Linked DNA regions of Homo sapiens: region 1 is linked to region 2. Evidence: fine-mapped expression QTL. Tissue or cell type: lung. Region 2 holds a variant in brackets; the other region holds the start of a gene. All regions are shown on one strand. Distances are from middle to middle.

What was found. PIP is the estimated chance that this variant, and not a neighbour inherited with it, causes the effect.
Region 1: it holds the start of MFGE8, and the variant in region 2 is fine-mapped to the expression of MFGE8 in lung (TOPMed, PIP above 0.99).

What each region holds. Positions count from the first base shown.
Region 1 is chr15:88,909,904-88,917,999 of GRCh38, forward strand. MFGE8 (milk fat globule EGF and factor V/VIII domain containing) reads right to left here and starts at 3,476. Exons shown (of 8, transcript NM_005928.4): 1 at 3,344-3,476; 2 at 1-20. The coding sequence starts at 3,416. RefSeq lists an enhancer at 2,686-3,217 and a cis regulatory region at 7,923-8,096.
Region 2 is chr15:89,008,756-89,016,858 of GRCh38, forward strand. No RefSeq gene overlaps it. Among named protein-coding and RNA genes, the nearest start is that of CARMAL, 28 kb to the right of the region's middle. The variant C/T (reference allele first, on the strand shown) is at 3,837.

The DNA of each region.
Region 1 (8,096 bases), 99 kb before region 2:
GGGGTTTTTGGAACAGATATCTGGGGACAGAGACAGGTAAGATGAGCAGATGATCAGGAAGGAGCTGGGGACACAGGTGAGAAGTAGCAGATGGGTCCAGCCCAAAAGGACCCTCCACTCAAACTCGCCCATTATCTCTTCCTCTCCCTCTTCCCCCGTGTGCTGGATGGAGCCTGAGTCCGCCTAGAGCCAAGGAAGTCCATGTGTAGGCGAATCGGCCCACATAAGGGAAGCGCCCAGCTTTCCAAGTGGCCTGGGAGTGTCCAGAAAAGTGCTGGCTGACAATGGCAGTGGTGCTGGGGACCACTGCCCACTGGTGGAAGAGCTGGCAGCTGGGGTCTGGAGAGGCAGGCAAGGTCCAGGGCAGGTCTCTTGGCAGCAGTTTGATTGCAAAGGAGGCCCATGAGGACTTTCAGGCAGGGGCAGTGGAAGGAAGCATTGTTCTGGCCCATTGAGCAGGTTCCGCCCACCAATTCAGGCACAGGTTGCAGTCACAGATGTCACCTCCAATGGCAGCCCTGACTCAGGAACAGCACGATGATCATCCAGGAAACACTGGGAGGGCCAATGACCATGCTAGGCCCCCGAGACAGAGAAATCAGATGCAGCGCAGGCCTCAAGAAGCCAAGGGGAAAGAGGCCAGCAAGTCCACAGATGAGGAAGATTGCCCAACGCTCCAGAAGCCTGCATGGACCGTCACTGGAGGCATGATTTCTGCTGGGGAATTAGAAGTTCCCCAGAGGAGGGAATATTTGAGCTGGGTCTAGAAGACAAAGTAAGGGGGGTGCCAGACTGGGCAATGAGTAAAGAATGTTCCAAGAAAAGCAGATGCACAGAGGGTGTGGTATGTTGGAGCACAGTTAGATGCAGCTGGAAGGGTAGGCTGGGGCCAGACTGGGAGGGATCTGAAGAATGACAAGTTTAGTTTTTCATCCCGTAGAGCAGTGGCTTTTAACCTTCCTTCACCCTCCTCACCATTGTCCACCAGGGGGGAGAAAAAATAAAAATAAAATAAAAAACAAGAAACAAGAAACAGAGATTCTCAAGTGTGAGATGGGAGTGGGAAAGTCAGTTCCAATTGCGGGATGAAGAAGGCTGAAAAGGCCCATGTGCAGACATGCCGCTGAGCTCTCCCAGGGTGGGGAGCATCTGGTAGCTGCAGACAGGTCCCTCTGGCTGAAATGCAGAAATCCCACTGAAGAGGGTGAAGGTGGAGAGCAGGAGAGCATGGTGAGAGAGGAAGTCAGGGCAGAGGAGTGAAAAGGAAGGGTGATTTCAGAACCACCAGGGGGCAAGGGCTGGAGAGGCCACCAGGGCTTCTGGATGGGAACCTGGATGACAGATGTACACTATCAGCCCCGGTGGTGGAGAACACAGGAGAAGGAACAGGAGGGCCTGTCCTCAATCCCTTGACTCTGGTGGGTCGGCCGGGCCCAACAGGAGTCCTCTAGCCGACATTAGCATCCCAGAAGGGCTGCCCCAGACCCTACACCCAAATCTGTCATTTGGAGCAAGACATGAGACATCTTTTTGCCTTGGCCGGGCATGGTGGCTCACACCTGTAATCCCAGCACTTTGGGAGGCCGAGGTGGGAGGATCATGAGGTCAGGAGATCCAGATCATCCTGGCTAACACGGTGAAACCCCGTCTCTACTAAAAATACAAAAAATTAGCCGGGCCGGGCGTGGTGGCAGGTGCCTGTAGTCCCAGCTACTTGGGAGGCTGAGGAAAGAGAATGGCATGAACCCAGCGGGCGAAGCTTGTAGTGAGCCAAGACCGCGCCACTGCACTCCAGCCTGGGCGACACAGCAAGATTCCATCTCAAAAAGAAAAAAGAAAAAAAAAAAAACCTTTTTGCCTCCCCCTCAGAGTCACCCATCTAAGGCTGGAGAGTCCTCCTGAAATCTCAAAGCCCCTTCATCCCACTCCAGGGAAGGCAACAACACCATTAATGAGCGATCTGCCCTCAGAGCTCCCCCTCCAGGGGCCTCAGGAGCTTAAAGTGGCTCCCAAGGAGCTATTAGTCATTGGCTTTAAATAGCAGGTAATCCTTCCTCTGACCTGGCAGGCGGGGGCGAGCATTGACACAGACAGAGGCTTGGGTTGGGAATGGACTCTTCCCTCCCAACTGCACCGGCCCTCTCCCTACACTGCTCCAGGGCAAAACGGTCCAGTGGGAAAAAGGGAAAGGGAAAGGTGTACTCTACCCAGCCACGTTACCTGTGTGTAAGATAGGTATGGTGTTTCCTCCTTCTGGAAAAGGCCACATCACCCTGTATAAAAACATCTTTGGGACTTCAGAGTCCTGCTCTTTCGGGGACTTTCCAGTAACATTTGGCCAGAGTTCAGGTTGGGGGGTACAGGGAAGAGTAGAAAGGGGCTAAGAAGATCCAGCTGTCTTTCATGGTGGCCGGGGAGGGCCAGGAGCTCCCAAGTTCCTGGGAGCTTGGAGCACTCTGGAAGCTCTAGCCCCGAGGGTCAGGCAGATCACAGGACATAGGGCTGGGGCTCAGCTGTTACCTACCTTGCTTCAGTCAATCCCATTTCTATGAGAAAATGATGGAGGGGCCACCTAAAGAGTCCTGGCCCTGACTCCCTCCCAGCGCTCCACGGTGAATGGCACGGGGCATCCGCAAGTCCAGCCTGCAAGGGGCCCAGCTGGCCTCCGGAGGCCTCCTGGGAGGCGGAGGAGGACCGGGGAAGATACAGCAGCCGGCCAAGGCCGCGGGAGGGAGGGAGTCAGGAGACTCCCATCAGCAGGCAGCCCTCTTCCAAGCTCCTCGAAGCCTCTGGGTCCCCTCCCGGGCCCCACTTACGGCCTGCGTCCATTGCACCGACTCCCCGGCCCTTCCCTTATGTGACCAGGCACGGACAATTGGGAGCGCAAAAATCCAATGAACTGTCCAGCCAACTGGAGTTGGCAGGGAGATGGCCAGGACAAAGTTATCCAGACAAGACTTATCCATACTAGAGTCCTAGAATCTCCCAGGTGGAAGGGGTTCGAAAGTCAAACGCAGTTCCCTGGCCTCATTTTTCACCAGGGAAAAGAGAGGCCCGACACAGCGGATTCCTTTGTCATTATCTGTAAGCCGCATCCCTGGGGGCGGCAGGGCTGTCACCCGATGTCCCGAGTCCCAGCCCAAAAGCCCCAGCGCAGAGACAGCAGGGCCGCATCCCCCTGTCCCGCCAGGGCGCAGCGGAAGAAGCCGCCCCTCTGCCCAGCCCGGTCCCCGGGGCTTTGTCTAAGTTTGTCAACAGTGGAGGTGGAGGGCGGGCGCCGGGCAAACTTCCGAGCGGCGCGGGGAGGAGGGGCGAGGGGCAGAGGGCGGCGCGATCCACTCACCCAGGGCGACGAGGAGGCTGGGGGCGCAGAGCAGCGCGCCGCACAGCGCGGCCAGCAGGCGGGGGCGCGGCATGCTGCGGGGACGCGGGCGCTGGAATGGGCACGCTGGGCTGCTCAGACCCCGCGGGGTTCTGGCGCCTTCTCCTCTGGGACCGGAATAAATCAGGCGGCTCAGCACCTCCCACTGGCCGTGCGCTCCGCCCAAGCTGGCCAGAGGCGGACTGGGGGCGGGGCTCCGCGGCTGGGAGGGAATTGGTTGAAAGGAATTGGGGGGCGCGGGGGTGGTCCGCGATATCTGCCTCTTCCGCCACTGCCACACCGGCGTCCCGCGTCGTGCCAACGGCCGGGTCACGAGTCTTGAGTCTGTTGGGCGGGAAAAGTTCAGGAGTTTTGTTTTTAAGATTTTTAGACTTGAAAAGATGCTAACTCTTTATTCATAATCAGATAGATGCAAATTAAAACTACAATGAGCATCGTGTTTCCCTTCTCGGATCGGCAAGTATCAAGATGTTAACAAGGTTAGTGGAGGCTGTGGGGAACAGGTCCAAGCATGCTTCGCTGAAGACAGTATAAATTAGTTCAACTTCCCTAGAGGGCTATTTGGTAACACCTATCAAAACGACAAATGCTGACACCTTAAGACCTAGCATTTCCACATAGAGAGATTCATTCTACAGAAACTCCCATGTGCAAAATGACAGATATACAAAGATAGCATAGCAACATTGTCTGAAATGGTAAAATACTAAAAAAAAAAAATCAGCGAAGGTTTCTGTAAAGGGCCTAATAGAAAATGTTCTCTGATATGTAGGCCCTGAGTCTCTGTAGCAGCTATTCATCTCTGCCTTTGTTGCAAGAAAGGCACCATAGACAAAATGCGAGGAAATGGGCACCTGTTTGCCGAAAGGGAATAAAACAAAGCAAGCCTGTCACCGTTGACTTTTTACTAAATGATTTGTACTTATCATGTGCAAATATTACCTGTTTACAAATAAGTGATTTTAATAATAGTGTTTTGGCTGGGTGCGGTGGCTCACACCTGTAATCCCAGCACTTTGGGAGGCCGAGGCACGTGGAACACCTGAGGTCGGAGTTCAAGACCAGCCTGGCCAAGATGGTGAAACCCCGTCTCTACTAAAAATACAAAAATTAGCCGGGCGCAGTGGCAGGTGCCTGTAATCCCAGCTACTCGGGAGGCTGAGGCAGGAGAATCGCTTGAACCCAGGCGGCAGAGGTCCCAGTGAGCCGAGATCATGCCACTGCACTCCAGCCTGGGTGACACAGTGAGACTCTGTCTCTAATAATAATAATAATAATAATAATAATAATAATAATAATAATGCTTCAGGCTGGGAGTGGTGACTCAAGCCTGTAATGCCAGCTCTTGGGGAGGCCGAGGTAGGCATATCACTTAAGCTCAAGAGTTCGAGACCTTCCTGGGCAACATGGCAAAACCCTGTTTCTACAAAAAAAGAAATACAAAAATATTCCAGGCGCATGCCTGTAGTCCCAGCTACTCAGGAGGCTGAGGTGGGAAGATCGCTTGATCCCAAGAGGTCGAGGCTGCAGTGAGCCACGATTGCACCACTGCACTCCAGCCTGGGCAACAGAGCGAGACTGTCTCAAAAAATAATAACAATACTAATACTAATAAGTATTTAAGTCAGACTAGCCAACAAACAAAATAGAACAGTCACACATCTCCCCTCCTAGCTGTGTTGAGACCTAAGTTGGGACTAGAGTCCACTGGCAAGATGCCCTTCTTAAAATATTCAGAAGCGGGTACTGGGCGTGGTGGCTCATGCCTGTAATCCCAACATTTTAGGAGGCCGAGGCAGGCGGATCACGAGGTCAGGAGATCGAGACCATCCTGGCTAACACAGTGAAACCTCGTCTCTACTAAAAATACAAAAAAAAAATTAGCCGAGCGTGATGGTGGGTGCCTGTAGTCCCAGCTGCTCAGGAGGCTGAGGCAGGAGAATGGCGTGAGCCCGGGAGGCGGAGCTCGCAGTGAGCCGAGATCGCGCTACTGCACTCCAGCCTGGACAACAGAGCAAGACTCCGTCTTAAAAAAAAAAAAAACATATATATATATATGGGGAAAAGACATATAGGATCAACTCAATAATCACAGAAAAAGCATTTGATAATATCCAACACGTCTTCGTGATAAAACACTCAACAAACTAGAAGTGAAAGGGAGCTTCCTCAACCTGATTTTTAAAAATCTATGAAAAACCGATGGGTACAGTGGCTCACGCCTGCAATCCCAACACTCTGGGAGGCTTAGGCGGGCAGATCAGCTGAGGTCAGCAGTTCGAGACCAGCCTGACCAACATGGTGTAACCTGGTCCCTACTAAAAATACAAAAAGTAACCAGGCATGGTGGTGCACACCTGCAATCCCAGCTACTCAAGAGGCTGAGGCACAAGAATCGCTTGAATCTGGGAGGCGGCAGTTGCAGTGAGCCGAGATTGCACCCCTGCTCTCTAGCCCGGGTGACACAGTAAGACTCTGTCTCAAAAAAAAAAAAAAAAGTGTGTATATATATATATATATGTATATATATATATATGTGTATATATATATGTATATATATATGTGTATATATATGTGTATATATATGTGTATATATATATGTATATATATGTGTATATATATATACATATATATATGTATATATATGTGTATATATATATACATATATATATATATATGTATATATATGAAAAACCCATAGCTACTATCATACTTAATGGTGAAAAACTGAATGTTTCCCCTAAGCTCAGGAATAGGACATGGTGTTCTGCTCTCATCACTTCTATTTCATCACTGTGCTGGAGGTTCCAGCCAGGACAATTACGCAAGAAACAGAAAATACATCCCCATTGGAAAGGAGGCAGTAAAACTATCTCTATCTCTACTTACAGATGGCATGATCTTGTATATCAAAAACCCTAAAGAGCCAGGCGCAGTGGCTCATGCCTGTAATCCCAGCACTTTGGGAGGCTGAGGTGAGCAGATCACCTGAGATCAGGAGTTCAAGACCAGCCTCAACATGGAGAAACCCCGTCTCTACTAAAAATACAAAATTAGCTGAGCGTGGTGGTGCATGCCTGTAATCTCAGCTACTCGGGAGGCTGAGGCAGGAGAATTGCTTGAACCTGGGAGGCGGAGGTTGCGGTGAGCCAAGATCGCGCCATTGCACTCCAGCCTGGGCAACAAAAGCGAAACTCCATCTCAAAAAAAAAAAAAAAAAAACAACCCTAAAGAATCCACATACACACACACACACACACACAAACACACAACTATTAAAGATAATAAATGAGCTAAGCAAGGTTGCAGGATACACAATTAATATACAAAAATCAGTTGTATTTCTTACACTAGAAATAAACAATCCAAAAACATAATTTTTAAAAATCCCATTTACAATAGGATTAAAAAGAATAAAATACTTAGGAATAAATTTAACAAAAGAAATACAAGACATGGCGGGGCACGGTGGTTCATGCCTGTTATCCCAGCACTTTGGGAGGCCAAGGTGGGTGGATCACCTGAGGTCAGGAGTTCAAGACCAGCCTGACCAACATGGCGAAACCCTGTCCCTACTAAAAATACAAAAAGTAGCCAGGTGTGGTGGCTGGCACCTGTAATCCCAGCTACTCGGGAGGCTAAGGCAGGAGAATCGCTTGAACCTGAGAGGCAGAGGTTGCAGTGAGCTGAGATCGTGCCACTGCACTCCAGCCTGGGTGACAGAGAGAGACTTCGTCTCAAAAAAAAAAAAGAAAAAGAAATACAAGTACGTTGAACACTACAAAACATCATCAAAAAAATTAAAGAAGATCTAAACAAATGGAAAATTATCCCCTGTTGATAGGTTGGAAGACTTGTATTGTTAAGATGCCAGTACACCCCCAAATTGATGTACAGACTCAATACAATCTCTGTCAAAATTCCATCTGCCCTTTTTGCGGAAATTGACAAGTTGATACTAAAATTCATACGGAGGCCTGGCGCAGTGGCTCATGCTTGTAATCCCAGCACTTTGGGAGGCCAATGCGGGAGGATCACAAGGTCAGGAGATCGAGTCCATCCTGGCTAACACAGTGAAACCCCGTCTCTACTAAAAATACAAAAAATTAGCCGGGTGTGGTGGTGGCCGCCTGTAGTCCCAGCTACTCGGGAGGCTGAGGCAGGAGAATGGTGTGAACCTGGGAGGCAGAGCTTTCAATGAACCGAGATCACACCACTGCACTCCAGCCTGGGTGACAGAGCGAGACTCTGTCTCAAAAAAAAAAAAAAAAAAATCACACGGAAATGCAAGGGACCCAGAATAGCCAAAACAATCTTGAGGAAAAAAAAAGAACAACATTGAAAGACTAACATTTCTCAATTCCAAAACTTACTACAAAGCTATAATAATCAAGTCTTCTAATTAGAATTTACTGTTCCCAACCTGTCTCTCTTAAATTTGCAGTCTCTCCTATAGTTCTTATCAAACTTTGCCTCATATTGGAATGATGGTCGCAATACCTGTCACTCGATTGTAAGTCCTGGTATATGGAATAATGTCATATGTATTCTTGTCACCCTAGCCCAGCACCTTTTATGTAGAAAGAGATCCATCAGCAGTGTTACTTTCAGTCGCCTCCCTGTGACCAAGCCTTCTCCCAGAGAAGGAAGCTGCCCTGCTCAGGGACATATGACCCATCCCCAAACCACAGGCTCCCTCATGGTCTTCAGGGTT
Region 2 (8,103 bases):
GCCTACAATTGGTTTTCAATTCCTAAAGCCCACATCTCAGTGGAAACGTGAACCACGTAGGTTATTTTATTTTATTTTATTTTATTTTATTATTTATTTTAGATAGAGTCTTGCTCTGTCACCCAGGCTGGAGTGCAGTGGCATGATCTTGGCTCACTGCAACCTCTGCCTCCCAGGTTCAAGTGATTCCCCTGCCTCAGACTCCCAAGTAGCTGGGATTACAGGCACTCGCAACCACACCCGGCTAATTTTTGTATTTTTAGTAGAAATGGGGTTTCACCATCTTGACCAGGCTGATCTTGAAGTCCTGACCTCGTGATCCACCCTCCTCGGCCTCCCAAAGTGCTGGGATTACAGATGTGAGCCACCATGCCCACATTAAGTCATTTTAAACGTTCTAGTAGCCACATTGTTACAGTAGGAAGTTGAATCAGGCATGAGTGGGGCAGGAGAGGGCTCCCCTCACCCACCAGGAATGTCAGGCAACCATCAGGTGATGGTTTGGCAGTTGTCACACTGCCTCTCTAAAAATGATATTTGGCAGCTGGTGCTAGGGAGAGGCAATTTCCTGATGGCCCACAGTTGTCACACTAAATAATTGGTCACAGGCACCAAGGAGAGGCAATTTCTCAATAGATAAAAACACTTGAAATTCGTCATCAGCAGCTTCCAATAATTTATCCGGAATTGGGCGCGTGAGTTTAGGCATGCACATTAAGAGACAAAATGGTGGAGTATGACTTCGTGGGCATTCCACCAGAAAAGGAAAGAATGCCTCAGGTGAGCATGCATACAACTTCTAAAACACACTGTGCATGCTCACCTCCAAAGCGCAGAGAGGGCACCGTGCATGCGGGCAGCTCGCCGTATGGGAAGGATGAAGGGAAATGGGAACAAGACACTGGAAGTAGGCCAGCATATACAACCCTAAGTCAAAAGATCCAACATCACACTTGACCTTCACGGTGCCCATCTGGGTGTCTTCCAAGTGTGCTTTCCTTCCTTTGCTGCTGTAAAGCTTTTTAGTAAACTTCCACTCCTGCTCTGAAACTTGCCTCGGTCTCTTTTTCTGCCTTATGCCCCTCAGTCAAAACCTTTTTTCTGAGGAAGCAAGAATTAAGGTAGCTGCAGACCGATACGTATTTGCCACTGGTAACCCACATATTTGCCGCCCCTAATAACATTACAAAAGGAAAAAGAAACAGATAGAATTAATTTTAATGTAATTGATAGATAAGTAGGTTTTTTTTTGTTTTTTTTTGAGACTAGGTCTCTGTCCCCCAGGCTGGAGTGCAGTGGCATGATACAGCTCACTGCAGCCTCAACCTCCAAGGCTCAGGTGATCTTCTCACCTCAGCCTCTCAGGTAGCTGGGACTACAGGTGTACACCACCATCTCCAGCTAATTTTTTTGTATTTTTTTAAGAGACAGGGTTTCACCACGTTGCCCAGGCTGGTCTCACACTTCTGGCCTCAAGCGATCTTCCCATTTCAGCCTCCTAAAGTGCTGGGATTACAAGCTTGAGCCACTACGCCTGGCCTAATGTATATTTTAATGAAACATCCAGAATATTACCATTTCAACATTTAACCAACATACGATTATTAATAAGAGAGTTTACCTTTTATATTGTTTTTAGCACTAAGTCTTTGCAATCTTGTATATTACACCTACAACACAAATCAATTCAGACTGTCCCTGTTCCAAGGGCCACACATGGCTAGTGGCTACCACGGTGGACAGAGCAAATCTAGATAATGCACAGAGTAATTTATTGCAAAGTATGTTTATATGGATGGGATAATTTATTATAGAGGATAGAATGTAAGTATTACAAACACTGACAAAGTAAAAGTAAGGATATAGTCACAGAGGTTGGGAAATGTGGGGAGATAACAGGATGAACACATTTTACATAGTAGGAAGTGAATCAACAGAAATTTAAGTATAGAATTTAGAATTATAGTGTAACCATTTGTTTCAGTCTATTGCCGTGTAACAACCTACTCCAACATTTAGCGGCTTAAAGCAACAACTATTTTATTTGCTTGTGGTTCTGTGGGCCAGGAAGGCAAGTCACACTTGGTTGGCGGGTGCTATTTCTCATGGTAGTGGCTGAAGCACTGGGATAGCTGGAGACTCCAGAATGGCCCACTTGCATGACTGGCAGTGGGTGCTATCAGCCAGCTTAAGCTCAGCTGGGATTGCTGGCCAGGGACCTCTGTTCTCCTGTGAGCCTCTCTCCAGGCTGCTCAGGCTTCCTCAGGGAAGGGGTTCTAAGAAGGAACCTCTCAAGAACTGAAGATAGATGTTGCAGATGTCTTAAAACCCAGCCTTGGGGCCAGGCGCGGTGGCTCACGCCTGGAATCCCAGCACTTTGGGAGGCCTAGGCGGGCGGATCACCTAAGGTCAGGAGTTTGAGACCAACCTGGCCAACATGGCAAAACCCTGTCTCTACTAAAAATACAAAAACTAGCCTGACGTGGTGGCACGTGCCTGTAATCCCAGCTACTCAGGAGGCTGAGGCAGGAGAATTGCTTGAACCCAGGAAGCAGAGGTTGCAGTGAACCAAAATCGTGCCATTGCACTCCAACCTGGGCGACAGAGTGAGACTCCATCTTAAAAACAAAACAAAACCAAAAAGAACCCCAGCCTTGGAAGGTACACATTTTCACTTTTCGTGCATTTTATTGATAGAAATAGGTCACAGGGCCAGCCAAAATTCAAGGGAAGGGAAACTAGACTCCGCCTCTTAATGGAGGGAAAGCAAATTAATACTGCAAAAGAGCACGTAGGATGGGACATCTCGTTGCGTCCAACATTGAGAACACAATCTACCCTACCACTAGAAGAAAACAGACAGATAACAGACACTTGGGGAGAAGACAGGTGGGAAGGGAGCTGAGAGAGCTAGCTTGAAAATTATTTACTCTGGATACAGTCAGATGTTGATAAATCAATAAATATGAGACTGTAAAAAGTAAAGTAGAGGTTCCTCTTCAAAGACTTTCCTCCCTGTCTAATTAGGAATAGATAGTAACTTTTCTTAGAAGCAAAATTTATTCAAAGACCTATGCTAACATTCTTAAATATCTGCCAGCCATAATAAAGAAATCAATGTACTTTATGCTCTTAGCTCCCACAATTTAGCCTAAATATATGCCCTGGCATGCTTATACTGGTCCAAGCATGGCCTGTTCCTCTTCCTTATTTGAAGGTGTTTTTACCTTTTTCAGCATTCCATAAGTTACTTCCTCCTTCCTTTGTTCTCCTCTGCCTTTGCCTCTTTTAAAAAGTTCTAAGTTGCAGACGGGTGAGGTGGCTCACGCCTGAAATCCCAGTACTTTGGGAGGCCGAGACAGGTGGATCACGAGGTCAGGAGATCGAGACCATCCTGGCCAACATAGTGAAACCCCGTCTCTACTAAAAATTCAAAAAAATTAGCCAGGCGTGGTGGCGGGCGCCTGAAGTCCCAGCTACTCGGGAGGCTGAGGCAGAAGAATGGCATGAACCCTGGAGGCAGAGCTTGTAGTGAGCCGAGATCGCGCCACTGCACTCCAGCCTGGGTGACAGCGAGACTCCGTCTCAAAAAAAAAAAAAAAAGTTCTAAGTTGCTAGCCAATCGGGACAAATACAGAATGTCAGGTCCTGCTCAAGCCAGTGGAAACCAGACACAGCAGTAGGGAAGACACGTCAGGTTATAAATGACCCTGTCTCCTTTGTTTGGTGTGCTCTCATGGCAAAACTGCTGATGAGTGTACCCTTTCTGCAGAAAGTATAAAAATGGCCTTGCTGAGGAATTAAATTAATGTTCAAGTGCTATTTCTTCATGGCAC[C/T]GGGGAACAAACATTTCAAACAAGACAGAAACAGTGATTTAGTGTAATACTGACAACAGAAAAGACACAAAACAGAGTGGTAAAATCACTACCTCTGGGTGGTAGGAATGGGGTTGGGAAGATGAAGCAGGAGACGTTGATGTTGCATGTTCTACTTTGTTAAACCGAGGGAATTAGTATTAAGAAATGGTGTTCATGGGCTGAGCGCAGTGGCTCACACCTGTAATTCGAGCACTTTCGGAGGCCAAGGCAGGAGGATCACCTGAGGTCAGGAGTTTGGGACCAGCCTGGCCGATACAGTGAAACCCTGTCTCTACTAAAAATTCAAAAATTAACCGGGTGTGATGGCATACACCTGTAATCCCAGCTACTCAGGAGGCTGAGGCACGAGAATTGCTTGAACCCAGGAGGTGGAGGTTGCAGTGAGCCAAGACTGCACCATTGTACTCCGGCCTGGGTGACAGAGTGAGACTCTGTCTAAAAAAAAAAAAAAAGGAATGAGATTCATGGATTATTTTTATGACGTAAATAAACATATATTATGAAGCTAGATAAAAATAAACCTATGAGACAAGGAGGGTACATAAGAGAGAAAGAAAGAATTTGTGGACTCTAGCAACATATAAAAAGGACTATACACCATGACCAAGCAAGATTTACTCCAGGATATGCCAAGTTGGTTTAACACTGAAAATCAATCAATGTAATACACCATGTTAATAGAATAAAGGACAAAACCACACGATCATCTCAATAGATGCAGAGAAAGCATTTGACAAATTCCAACAACTTTCGTGATACTCAACAAGAAGGAGTAGAAGAGAACTCCCTCAACCTAATAAAGGACATCTACAGAAATCCCACAGCTAACATTAGACTTAATGATGAAAGACTGAATGCTCTCCCAGTAAGATCAGGAAAAAGACAAGGATGTCCGTTCTCACCCCATCTATTTAACATTGTACTGGAGCTTCCAGCCAAAGCAACTGGGCAGGAAAAATAATTTAAAGGCATACAGATTGAAAAGGAAGAAGTATAACTCTGTGTTCACCGATGACTTGATCTTGTACATAGAAAATCCTAAGAAATCACATACACACATGTACTGGCGCAACTATGAGAGCTATAAACAAGCTCAACAAGGTTGAAGGATACAAGACCAATATATAAAAATCAACTGTATTTTATACACTAGAAATAATCCAAAAAATGAAATTAAAAAAACAATTCTATTTATAGTTACATGAAAGAGAATAAAATATTTATAAGTAAATTTAACAAAAGAAGGAATGACATACACATCTAAAACTACAATCATTGAAATAAATAAAAGGAAGATGCCGCCTGTTTTTGGATTGGGAGACTTGGTAAAATGGCGATACTATTCAAATTAATGTACAAGTTCAACACAATGTTGTTGTTTTTGAGACAGAGTCCCGCTCTGTCTCCCAGGCTGGAGTGCAGTGGCACAATCTCGGTTCACTGCAACCTCCATCTCCTGGGTTCAAGCAATTCTCCTGCCTCAGCCTCCCAAGTAGCTGAGATTATAGGCATATGCCACCATGCCTGGCTAATTTTTGTATTTTTAGTAGAGATGGAGTTTCGCCATGTTGGCCAGGCTGGTCTTGAACTCCTGGCCTCAGGTGATCGCCCGCCTCAGCCTACTAAAGTGCTGGGATCACAGGCGTGAGACACCATGCCCAGCCTCAACACCATCCCTGTCAAAATTCTAGCTGCCTGTTTTGCAGAAATTGAAAAGCTGATCCTAAAATGCATATGGAAATGCATGGGACCCGGAATAGGCAAAACAATCTTGAGAAGAACAAAGTTAGAGGATTCACAGTTTCTGATTCAAGACTAAGTGGTACTGGGACAAGGACAGACACATAAACCAAGAGAACAAAACTGAGAGTCTAGAACTAAACCCACATATTTATGGGCAATTGACTTTTGACAAGGTGGCAAGCCCATTCGATGAGGAAAAGACATAGCTTTTCAACAAATGGTGCTGAGACAACTGGATATCCACATCCAAAAAAAAAAAAAAAAAAGTTTAATCCCCTACATCACACCATATACAAAAATTAAGTCAAAAAGGATCAAAGCCTACATGTAAGATCTAAAATTATAAAACTCATAGAGAAAACATAGAAGTAAATTATTGTGAACTTGGGTTAGGCAAGGATTTCTTAAATATGACACAAAACACAAGTAACAAAAGAAAAAACAGATAAGCTGGACTTTATCAAAACTAAAAACTTTTGTACTTCAAAGGACACTACCAAAAAAAGTGAAAAGACAACCCACAGAATGGGAGAAAATACTTGCAAATCGCATGTCTAATAAAGGTCTGATATGAGAATACATAAAGAACTCTTATAATTTAAGAAAAAAGAGATAACCGAATTTTAAAATGGGCAAAGGATTTAAATAGATATGTCTCCAAAAAGGTATACAAGTGGCCAATAAGCACACAAAAAGATATTCAACATTATCAATCACTGGAGAAATGCATGTCAAAATTACAATGAGACGGCACTTCATATCCACTAGTATGGCTAAAACCAAAAACACAGACAATGAAAAGCGTGAGTGGGGACGTGGAGAAATTGGAACTCTCATATATTGTTGGTGGGAATATAAAATGGCAAAACCATGTTGTAAAACAGTGTGACGGTTCCTCAAAAGATTAAGCATAAAATTACCATATGACCTAGCAACTCCACTCCTATGCGTATGGCCAGGAGAAATAAAAACATGTATCTGCACAAAAGCTTGTATACAAGTGTTCATTACAGCACTATTCATAATAGCCAAAAGGTGGAAACAACCCAAATGTCCGTCAACAGTAACAAAAGATAAAACAGACAAGTTTGACAAGTTGAACTTTACCAAAACTAAAAGCTTTTGTACTTCAAAGGATACTACCAAAAAAACTGAAAAGACAACCCACCTAATAGGAGAAGACATTTGGAAATCACATGTCTGTAATAAACAAAGTGGTATATCCATACAATGGAATACTATTCAGCAATAAAAAGGAATAAAGTGCTAATGAATGCTACAACATGGGTGAGCCTTGAAAACATTACACTAAGTGAAAGAACCCAGTCACAAACGCCACATATCCTTTGATTTCACTTACATGACGTGTCCGGAATAAGAAATAGGTACAGTCAGAAAGTAGATTTGTGGTTTCCAGAGGCTGGGTGGAAGGGAAAGGGGGAGCAACTGCTCATGGGAACAGAGTTTCTTTTTAGGGTGATGGAAAGTTTCTCGAATCAGATAGTAGTGATTGTTGCACAACTCTGTGAGTATCCTAAAAGCTATTGAATTGTATACTTTAACATGATGAATGTTATGGTATGTGAAAAAGGAAGGAAGAGGTGAGAGAAAGAAAGAGTACAAATGCATATAAAACTTGGAGGAAGAAGAGAAAGAAATTAAGGAATTACTAAACCTTTTTTTTTTTTTCTTTTTGAGACAGAGTCTTGCTCTGTTGTCCAGGCTGGAGTACAGAGGCGTGATCTCGACTCACTGCAACCTCCGTGTTACAGGCTCAGGGATTCTCCTGCCTCAGCCTCCCAAGTAGCTGGGACTACAGGCATACATCACCACGCCCAGCTAATTTTTTTTTTCTTTTGTAGTTTTAGTAGAGATGGGGTTTCACCGTGTTAGCCAGGCTGGTCTTGAACTCCTGACCTCAAGTGATCTGCCCACCTTGGCCTCCCAAAGTGCTGGGATTACAGGCGTGAGCCACCGCACCTGGCCAAAACCTTTATTTTCTCAATGAAGCAGACATTCACTCCACAGACCTTATGTACTATATGCAGAACACTCAATAAATGCCTCTTGGCCCAGCTGAGGCTCAGTAGCTGATCATTCACTAAGAAGGCAGAGGGCTCTGCTGATGCAAAAGGGATACCGGGTTCAGGATTTCAACTGGGGGAAGTTTCCATTGAGCCTTCTAAGTGCAGGGAGCCTCCTGACCTCAAGTGATCCGCAGATCTCGGCGCCCCCATAGAGTGTTGAAGCATCCCGGGCCACCATCTGTGGCCCAAAAGGTTTTTTAAGGGGCAAGAATCCTTTTCTTGGCTTCTGCAGTCAGTCTCCTTGCCAGTGACAACATCAGGGCAGCAGTGGAAAAAGACACGCTTTCAGTTGCTGGATAAAGTGTCTTCACCGTCTTGGCAAGTAAGTGCTTTTGTTATTTTCCCACTAAGTGATTCATTCTCCTGGAGGCAACTCCTTGGGCACTTCCTGGACA